Linked DNA regions of Homo sapiens: region 2 is linked to region 1. The links come from fine-mapping of genetic effects on gene expression. A gene starts in region 1. The other region holds a variant in brackets. All regions are shown on one strand. Distances are from middle to middle.

Region 1 (5,374 bases):
AATTGGGTTTTCTGTTAACTTGCAAATCAAAGCTTCCTAACTGAATAAAGACTCAGTTAATGTTAGTTGGTAGTGCATGCAATGATGGTTGAGGACACTTGAGACAATCCTGCTTTCTCAACCTGGGGGCAGAATAATACCACCATCTAGCCCTCAGTCAGCCATCGGTTCACCTGGTAAACCATTGGCCACATTTATGGAAGGTTTTAGAAAGAGGTCCCTATTGACTTTGCTTTGCTTTGAGACACACTGTGGAAGTATAGGATTTTTTATGCTTAAAACAAATAAGAAAGAGCTGAATTCAGGGATATTGGCATATAGAGAAAATATTTGAAGCTGATCTATGCACATCTATTTTTGAGATTCACATACAAGTCTTGTTCTTGATTTCGCTTTTACCCATCCACAGAATGGTAACCTGGGCCTGACATATTGAAGTGAAGTATCAGTTTTTGCTCTATTTTCATCTTGATGCTAGCTGCTTCCTGACTGTTCCCAGCGAGCCCAGACACCACAGGGCCATAAGCTTAAAAAGATCATGTTACTTCAGTCACTGCTGAGTAGCAGACGAAGCTGAAGCCAGCTGAATCTAGAAGTGCTATGACGCTGAAAAAGTCAGGAGTCTTTACCCAGATCTGCCTCCTGCAAGCAGTGTTTTCTGCCTGCCCTATGGGACTTGTGAGGGACAGAAAAGTTTCCCAGCCCCTGTCAAGATGGTAACATTATCTAAAGTTATCACAAAGCTTCTAGTCAACCTTAATTTCTACCACCTGAAATTCAGAACCTAAGGCTATTTTACAATCTTTACAAAATTTAAATTATTTTTCTCTTAAAAGCTGGGCAGGTTGGTGGGTTTTCTTGGTTTATTCTTCAGGTTTTTTGTTTTGGTTTGGTTTTTGGTTTTAGTCCTTGAGCTTTGTAAATAAGTTTTCCTGCGCCTGCTTGCCTGTAACTTATTTTTCTGGTCTAATGACTGTTTTTTAATGAGTTCAGCCTGTGCTTTCTTGTACAAAAAGAAACGTGGGCATGTGAGGAGCATATTAATTAGCTATCAGATGTAGCCTGGTTTTTGAAGTCCAGATCTTCAGGATGTTACCGAAGTGTAAATATAAGCATGACTTTTGCACGTGATTAGTAATTACATCACAGTTAAAGCCTCAGGGGACCTTCCACCCCAGAATTCTGCTATCCTCAACCCCTGAATGGCTCTGTCATTAATGGTCAGTCTCCAAGAACTCATTTCCCAAGGAAATGACTTCCTGTTTTGTTCTAAGTGGCCTTCCCTGCAAACCCTCCTCACCTTTGAACTTCCTATTTTGGGATGGAAAGATTGACCCTTCTCCCGCTCCTCTTCACAAGGTAAGGAGAAACAAGGGAGAAGAAAGAAAGGTCCTCTGGAGAGAGATATATGTATCATACATATCTTATACATATATCATATATATCTTATATATCTCATATATATCTTATATATATCTTATATATCATATATATATATATATATATATATATATATATAAAACTACACCCGCATTGCACCAAAGTATACGAAATATTTTCTGGCCTTCAAATCATATGCCTAACTCCTGCAGGAAAACTGCATGGGCACTCAGGCTGATCTCCCTTACCCCACAACTTAGATCCACCTCTCACGTTTTCTAAGTTTATTTCCACGCTGTCCCTGGGCCAGGCTCTAGGGTCCCAGAGGTGAAGTGGAGGAATTCACAGTTTGGTTGAGGAGAGACCCCCTTGAATAGATCAAGCTCCCCAAGTGTTGCTGTAAGTTTACATGGAACATGGAGTCTGAGTGGGAAGTCAGGGAGGTGAATCACGGAAGCCTTTGGACTTTGTACACCTGTGGGCAGCTCCCAGATGAAGGGGGGAAGGTGTTGCAGGCAAATGACCACCTTTGACGGGCGGACATCGGCCTGCTTTGCCACTTCACCTTATGCTGCCCTGTGACTGGTCTTTGCACTGTGTCACCGATATGTCTTTTTTTTTTTTTTTTGAGACGGAATCTCACTCTGTCACCCAGGCTGGAGTGTAGTGGCACCATCTCGGCTCACTGCAACCTCCACCTCCGGGGTTCAAGCTATTCTCCTGCCTCAGCCTCTTGAGTAGCTGGGACTACGGGTGCGCGCCACCACACCCGGCTAATTTTTGTATTTTTAGTAGAGACGAGGTTTTGCCATGTTGGTCAGGCTGGTCTCGAACTCCTGCCCTCAAGTGATCTGCCCGCCTTGGCTTCCCAAAGTGTTGGGATTACAGGCATGAGACACCGAGCCCGGCCAACCACTAATATGTATCGTGAGTCAGCTCTGCTGTCTCTGAAAGTCCAACCTCCTACTTTTTGTTTTTTGTTGTTAAGACAGGGTCTTTTTTTTGTTTTTTAAAGACAGGCTGGAGTGCAGTGGCGCGATCTGGGCTCACTGCAACCTCCGCCTCCCGGGTTCAAGCGATCCTCCCACCTCAGCTCCAGAGTAGCTGGAAATACAGGCACGCGCCACTATGCCTGGCTAGTTTTTGTTTTTTACGTAGAGATGGAGTCTTACTATGGTGCCCAGACTGGTCTTGAACTCCTGGGCTCAAGCGATCCTCCCAAAGCCCTGAGATTACAGGCGTGAGCCAGCGCGCCGGACACAACCTCCTACTTTCATGAAAGAGTGGGCACTTCCAACAGGAGGAGTAAGTGGATGAGCGGTGTGTGACACACCCGCCTCAGCGTCGCCCGGAGTCCGCAAGGCTGCGGCTCACCGTTCTCTGCCCCATAGCTGGCATTGTGGAGTGAAAGGGAACGTGGGTGGAGGATTGAGGTTGGAAATTCTGAATCTGTACATACAGCTTGAAGGGGCTCATCGAATGTGTCGGTCCTTTAGATTCCCCCTGCCCATGGAGGTTAAAAAAAAAAAAAAAACCTATCAAAAGAGCTATTCAAAACCAGGCTGAAGATTGGAAGGAAGTTGGCCAGCCTCGGCTGCAGGACAGGTGCTTCCAGGCTCCATTAGGGGTGTCCAGCGCCTTCTTTTGCCCTAGGCAGCGCCCTGAAGAACGCGTCGGGGCCTCGGTTCGCGGACTTGAGGAGTGGACCGACCGAGCGCTGTGCGTAAAAGGACCGCTGGGGCACACGCCCGAGCGCCACCGGAGCTAGGAGACCGCGGCCCGGAGGTCGGCGAGTCGGGGGCAGGCCCGGAGCTCCTCCCACGGGGGGCGGGGCGGGTCACATGGCGGTGGCGCGGTAGCGCGCGATGCAGCACAGGCTAGAGGCTGCGCAAGCGCGGGGCCCGCCCCTGGGACCCTCCGGGCCGGGCGGTTTGGCCCCTTAGCGCCCGGGCGTCGGGGCGGTAAAAGGCCGGCAGAAGGGAGGCACTTGAGGTAGGTGCTGCGCGCCGGGGCTCCGCGAGGCACGTGATGTCCGTAGGCGGGGCCTGCCGCGGCGTAGGTGGGGAAACTGAGGCAGTGCAGGGCCGGTAGGGTGGGTGCTGGGCTGGTGAGGCGCGCCCCTCGGGCCCGCGCCAACTTTCTTAGGAGCCGCCGCAGCGCTGGCGCTCCCTCCGAGGACGACGACCCTTCCGCCACCCTGCGTGGCGGCCGATGGAAAAACCCTGCGCCCAGACGTCGGAGAACGGAGACGGGGACCCGGCGCTGCTGCGGCGGGCTAGGGCCCCCTCTGTCCACGCCCGCAAGCCTTGAGTGACGCCGGTGGCGCCAACCTTCGCGAATTGTTGGGACAAAGAACAGAGGAGAGGGCCCTGCCCTGGAGCATGGGCCCGGGGGCCGCCCTGCTGGACCAGCCCCAGGTGCGGACCTGGCAGTCCTCGTCCTCGTCTCTGTGCCCGCTTAGGGTCGTGTCTTTTAAGAGGGCACGGTTTCTAGCGTTGTTCAGCGTTTCGGAGGCACCTGTTCCCCCTCTTTCCCAAGAGTCACAAACGCCTGACTTTAAATTGGGTAGAGCCCAGTTGTAAACTTAACAGCCCTGCTGAGGTCTAGGAATGAAAAGATGAACAATCTGCCCCCAGGGTTGTTGCTGGAGCGGGAGGTGAAGGCGCAGGTGGAGATGGTTAGAGGCAAAGGAAGGGAAGTCAAGGCCCAGCCGGTCCAGGGCTGTGGGAAGGAGGCACACCCGGGAGTCCACTGCCGGACCGGGGTTCCCAGCTGCTCCTGCGCCTCTTTTCCTTGCCACATCATGCTGTCTGCACAGCCCAGCAACCCAGAACTCAGCTTTTTTGTTTGTTTTATTTTAATGTATTTTCCTTTGAACCTGGCAGGTGGTTTTTCAAAAAGAAAATAATCAAGATTTGTTTTGAAAAGCATTGTGAAAAAGTCAGCTTGAATAGTCTTGAATGCTCCTGCTCGGGCCCAGCTTTGGAGAATGAGGATTGGGATTTCCACTGCAGACCCCGACTCGTTACCATACTCATTCATCAGAAAACTCTTCATTTTGTGTACAAATAACGTTTTGAGGGTAATCATTGCTCTAGAAATGAAGAATTATACATCGTATTTATTGCACTTTTTGTAAGGTACCTCACAAGGCACCTCCTATACATTTAATCCTTTGATTCTTGCAACTCTGTAGAAGGTAATTAAGGAAGCATTCCCATTTTACTGATGCAAAACAGTTCCTTGTCCAGGTTTATACAGCTTGCAAGAATTAAAGTTAGATATTATTCTTGGTGTGGGCCTTTCCTATATCCCCGTCTTTTATAAGAGCATGTCATTTAGTTGAGACCTTCTGCATTACTTCTGAAGGGGTACAAAAGACATTTCTGATGATTTTCTCATCTCGTGTCATTTAAATGGTGCTCAGAAAGTTTGGATAGGACTGGAACTCTAGGGCTCAAGCCCCAGGCTCTGTCCCTATCTAAGCAATAGGGCAGCTGTCCTGCCAGTTGGGTTCTTGCTTCTTTGTGAAATGTTGAGCAGAAGCTCCAAGTCTCTCTGCTGTGGCTTGTGTGGCAAGAACCATCCTGAGGTTCTGTGCAGAGAGCCAGCCTCACCTTTGAGCTCAGTGGCCTCTGGCACAGGGAAATTACAGCTGGGCAGTGTCCTTTGCCTTCTCTGGCACTGCTAGTGCAGGAGGCAGTGTTAGCTGCTACAGGAATAGCATGGAGCGGGCCTGCAGGCCAGAGGGGCTGAGACAAGCCAGTGTTCCCACCAGACCTAGAACGTTCACCAGAAAGCAGGCCTGCAGTGACACAGCTGCAGAAGTTCACTATTTTGTGCCTGTCCTGCTTCAGATATCCTGTCTTTATAGGGGCACGAGTGAATCTGAGCCCTGCAAAAGAGAGAAAGATAATGCTGCTTTGCCGTTTTCTAGTGCGTTACCGCATTAAAAATTGCTCTTCTTATATAATCTTTATGACAACTCTTTAAA
Region 2 (5,374 bases), 140 kb before region 1:
GCCAGCTCAGTTCTGTGCCCCTGGAGAAGGCTGATGTGAAGCACTATCCATTGCTGAGCACTTGCTAGGTCCTAGGCACTAGCTAGACCCTTTCTGTCTACCATATCCCTCCCAAGCTCACTGCAAGGCACGGTCCATCTTCATTCCCTTGTAACAGCTAGGGAAACTGGGGCTCAGTGAGGTTCCACAGCTTTTCAGAAGTCGCATGGCCTGAAGATTCTAGAGCCTGCTTCAAACCTTGTTCCCCCTGACCCCAGAATCTCTGTTCAGGTTTCCCTGAAGATGCCAGAGTGTGTTCGGTCCACAATGACCACAGTTACGGACCAGGCCCAGCCTGGTCAGGCTCACCTGGCCTTTCACACTGCAAGGTGGACCTGGTCTGAACCTCAGGTCCTAGGACTGCTCACTATATCACCCTGAGGATCCAGCCTTGCTTTTTACCTATAAGGTGTGCATATCTATCCCTGGGCAGGCTTGATCCTGGCTCAGCATGGCATCCCAACCCCTAGTCCTCAAGCTGCAGACACCCCAGCGCTTCGCCCAGGCTGCCCTGAGGCCTTTAGCACACGCATTGTACAGATGGTGATGACACTGGGGCAGGCTTTTTACCCCAAATGAAGAATCTGAGGGCCCAGTAAGCCAGATGCGCTGGTGAAGAGGAATCCCAGCCTGTACCAACCTCTCATTGCCTTGAACAGCTAAGCTCAGTCCAGCTCTGGCCAGGACCCTTACAGCCAGGGGGCAGCAGCCCTGCTGGGCCCAGACCAGGAGCCACCTACCCTTTAGAATGTCAGCACAGTCAAACCATTCTTTTACATTTATGGAGACTGACAACTAGCCTCCACTGTTGTCTTATCACTGAGCAACACAGAAGCATTGGCAGAGAGGAAGTGTTCTGATATTTCAAATGTTTCTGGTGGTCGAAATGCTCCCAGATAATAGCATAGTTTTGGAAATAATGGACTACATCATAAAATTAAAATTAACTCCTTCTGTTTTCTAGAACTTATAATGAGAATAATTTAAATAACCATTATTTACCAAATTTTATTCATATATGTATAATACTATTGATGTATCATTTGAGGAAAAGTAAAGCACATATAAAAGAGGCTTTTAAATTAAAAACAAATATAAGGGACTTTTAAAAGTTTGTGGGAAAATGAAATTAAAAGACAAGAATAAAAAATATAAACTTTATTTCTCTCAAGTTCTATCAAGGTCAAGACACTTTTGTAAGTGATGATATCGTCCATTTTGTCCATCTCCAAAGAACTGAGGATCCTGGGAATTTAACCATGTCAAGGCAGTCTTTTTTACATTATTAAATGGAGAAAAACGGGTCTCCTTTAAATAATTTCTTAAGATTAGGAAACAAAAAGAAGTCATAAGGAGCCAAATCAGGACTGTAAGGTGGATACCTAGTGATTTCCCATTGAAACTCGCAAAATTGACCTTGTTTGATGAGAGGAATGAGCAGGATCATTGTCATGATAGAGAACTCTCTGGTGGAGCTTTCTTGGGCATTTTTCTCCTAAAGCTGTGATTCTCTCAAAACACTCGTAATAAGCATATGTCACTGTTCTTTGGCCTTCCAGAAAGTCAACAAGCAAAATGCCTTGAGCATCACTGAAAATTGTTGCCCTGACCTTTGCTCTTCACCTGTCTGCTTTTGCTGTGACTAGGTCACCTCTGCTTCTTGGTAGCCATTGCTCTGATTGTGCTTTGTCTTCAGCATTGTACTGGGAAAGCCAAGTTCCATCTCCTGTTACAATTCTTTGAAGAAATGCTTCAGGATCTTAATCCCACTTGTTTAAAATTTTCATCTAAATCTCCCCTCCTGTCTGCAGTTGATCTGTCCATGGTGTTGGGTCTTTTTCTGCTGTTCATCATTGATCCTCTTCAATTATGGCATGAAGAAGATGAATATTTTTCCTTACAAATTGATATGGATGGTCTACCGCTGTGGACTTCATCTTCCACATAATCTTGTGGTTTTTTTTTGTTGTTGTTTTTTTTTTGAGATGGAGTCTTGCTCTGTCACCCAGACTGGAGTGCAGTGACATGATCTCAGCTCACTGCAACCTCTGCTTCACGGGTTCAAGTGATTCTCCTACCTCAGCCTCCCAAGTTGCTGGGATTACAGGTGCATGCCACCATACCCAGCTAATTGTT[G/A]TATTTTTAGAAGAGATGAGGTTTCACCATGTTGGCCAGGCTGGTCTCAAATCTCTTCCTTTCTTAAAATGTGTTTTCCATTTGTGAACTGCTGATTTTTTTGGGGGGGGGGATGTTGTCCCCATAAACTTTTGGTAAAGCATCCATGACTTCACCATTCTTCCACCCAAGCTTCACCATGAATTTAATGTTTGTTTTTACTTCAATTTTCACAGAATTCATGTTGCTCTGGTAGGTGCTCTTATCAAGCCAATCTCTGATCCTTCTCAGTGCCTCAAACTAGACCCTATTCAGAAATATTATAACAAGTTAGTGTGAGTTTATTTTGGTGTAAAAAAAATTTGAAGTCCATGCACAGTTTTTTCATAATACACATTTTCCATGAACTTTTTGAAGCCCCCTCATAAATAATTCAAAAATACATTTGGGAAAATTTGAGAAATTATGTAGGGCCTGGTGGTAATTGGGCATTTGGACTGGCAGGATCATGTGGTGGCTCAATGAGAAGCCAGAAAGCAACTCTTTCCCATTTTCTGGGTGGGGGCTCCAGCCCCTGAGTGGGGATAAGGAGGAAAGCAGCCCTTCATGGAAGCTGGCTCAGGAGTTCACCCAGGCTTCCTGGAGAAGGGGACAGAAGAGGATGTCTCCTTCCCATGAACTCCACATTTGAGTTCACTGGAAACATAGGCTCTGGGAATGGAGGGGAAGAGGGCAGAGGAAAGGCTGGCAGCTGAGGTGGGGTATAAAGGGAGGGGAGTGTCAGAGGAGGCTGCGTCCACGCCTGGAGGTCAGAGGGCAAATGCCCCCAATCACGCTCCATCTGGGTTATCAGCTGCTTGAGGATCCATGTCCAGAAACTCGGGGAATCACTGTGTCCGTTTTCCTTGCCTCGGGACTGTGCCTCTTGTCTGGAGATGATGAGGTTTCTTTCAGCCTCCCATGCTCTCCACCAATGATCATGAGTTTCCATTCGAGACACAGAATCTGGCTTTGAGAATAAGAAACAGTTCCCTCCAGCTTTTCTTCAAGAGCCTCAAGTCACCTTCTGTAACTCCAGATCACAAGCTGGACCCATCCAGGGCAGCAGGCACTCCTGGGCTTTGACCTCCTCTGTCTCGAGGTGAAACTCGGTGAGGGTTTTACATTCCACTGAACTACTGCTGGACTGCAGTGGCACGTCCCTGATCTCTGCACAGAATGTCTTTCATCCCCTGGTTAAACAAGTCTGTCAAAAACAAGAGAACTTTCACCACACGCATACCATGACACCCTCACCACCTCCCAGGGTGATCCAGGCCGAGCAAAACTTGTGCTCACCTGCTTCTGCCTCAAGCTCCATGGAGTCTGCTGGGTTCACCAATAAAGCAGCTCACGCGAGGCTGAAGGTCCTCCCCCATTTCCCAGGCTGCTGCAGAGCTTCTTGCAGCCACCATGGCCAGCTGGGCCGAAACACTGAGACCACTGACCACGGTCTGCCCAGAACCACACCCGTGCCTGGCAACAGGGCAGACTATCACTGGAGAGGCGTGGGGGCACAGCGACAATAGAATCACACCCTCCACCCTGCCCTCTGCTGAACCCCCTCCTGTGGCCCCAGAGCACTCTCCCCATCCTGAGCGCTCCCTGTTCTCTCTGCCTGGAAGGCTTCCTCCGGCTGCTGGCGTGGAGCACATATGTCCACACAAAATAACTGCACTCCTTACCGCAGGCCCCAGGGGTCCGGGGCGGGCCTGGGGCGGCTTGGTTCTCAGTGGAAGGAGGGAAGGAATGCCGCGGAAGGAAGGAACAGGTGAGTGAGTGAGTGAGTGAGTGATGAGGCCCAAAACCATCCCTTGCCCTTCCTCAGAATTCACACTTTCTTGTTCTCTCTTGTCAGTTGCTTCCCTAAGGAAAGCTTAAAATCCCTGTCCACAAAATACCTGAAATATATAATTAAAAATATACATGTATATATTATATAATTTTAAATATTTAACAAATTGAAATAAATGCAAATCTATACACTGATAACATCAGGTGATCATATAACACTAAAATTCATCATTTTGGACTACAATGAAAATCTCAAAAATGTGTTTGGAAAGTACAAATAATAGAGATTATTTTCTATTAATAACGTGTCAATGAAACTAGAAATGAGTGAAAAATTGAGGAAAAACAGCCACATAGGAATTTTATGACTCCCCCATAAGCCATTTTGGATCAAAAAGCCACCAAAACCAACATTCAGTTCAGAAAGTTAAAAATGGAAAAGAAACACAAGGAAAGCAGAGAAACAGAAATGAGATCAAAACGAATTAAAATGTCTTAGAAACTGTGAAGGCTTTGATGCAAAAATCCAAAAACAAAAAAAAATGGCTTCTTTCCTTTCTTTTAAGAGAGGAGCAGAAATATACAATTAAAGATGAGATCAAACAGAAAACCAAAGACATAGAAGAGAACTAAGTTCAGAGCTGCTTTGTAGAGCTCAGTGCTAGAGGTGGAGAGAGCTGGCCATGCCTGCTGGGAGGGGCGGGGCAGCCCAGGAAGTGGGAGTGGGGTCGGCCTGGTGGGGGTTGGGAGGTGGGGCCCTGAAGCTGCTGCTGGGCTACTTTTCGCCCAAGGGTGAAGATGGAACAGCCCTGGGTTGTCTATACAGGTCGCGGCCTCCACCTCATCCCACCCCACTTACTCTCCCGAGGAGGGCATGGATACCATGCCAGGGGGCCTGAAGAGGGTTGCAGAGCCCTGGAGGAGGCCAGGGCCAGGGGCTGCCACGGGAAGTGGAAGGCAGTGGCCCCCACTCCTCCCAGAGAGGCTTCTGGGAAGCCTGCACAGAGCCTGGGAGTCCAGGGCTGCCCCTCCTGCTGGAGAATACACTGTTCAGAACTAAAGGAACAGCGGGATCCCAGGACTTCACAGCCCGGGAACAGTCCCTCCAGAGCAGCGGGAACCAGGCAGTGTCCTGGGCAGATCTCGAGGAAGTGGAGGGAGATCCAGCCGGCTCCCACTCTTAGCTCCCATCCTGCCCACGGACACAATCTGCTCTCTGAGTGGGTGGTCCTCCAAAGTGTCTTCCCCTGCCAGAGCCTGTTTCCTCCTGGTCACTTGGGATTCTGACAGCCTCCGAGGAAAGGAATTCCTGTCCTCTTAGGCTGTTGTGACTGGCTCCGCAGTTGCAGTCTTGGCCTGTGAAGGAGGGGGCTCCTCCCAGCCAGGC

What was found. PIP is the estimated chance that this variant, and not a neighbour inherited with it, causes the effect. A credible set is the group of variants that fine-mapping cannot tell apart.
Region 2: its variant is the best candidate, but not a certain one, in a credible set for the expression of PRXL2A in whole blood (INTERVAL, PIP 0.71).

What each region holds. Positions count from the first base shown.
Region 1 is chr10:80,405,272-80,410,645 of GRCh38, forward strand. PRXL2A (peroxiredoxin like 2A) reads left to right here and starts at 3,280. Exons shown (of 6, transcript NM_032333.5): 1 at 3,280-3,372. RefSeq lists a silencer at 3,059-3,348 and enhancers at 3,634-4,227, 5,074-5,374.
Region 2 is chr10:80,261,109-80,266,482 of GRCh38, forward strand. No RefSeq gene overlaps it. Among named protein-coding and RNA genes, the nearest start is that of MAT1A, 26 kb to the right of the region's middle. RefSeq lists enhancers at 3,186-3,717, 3,718-4,248. The variant G/A (reference allele first, on the strand shown) is at 2,176.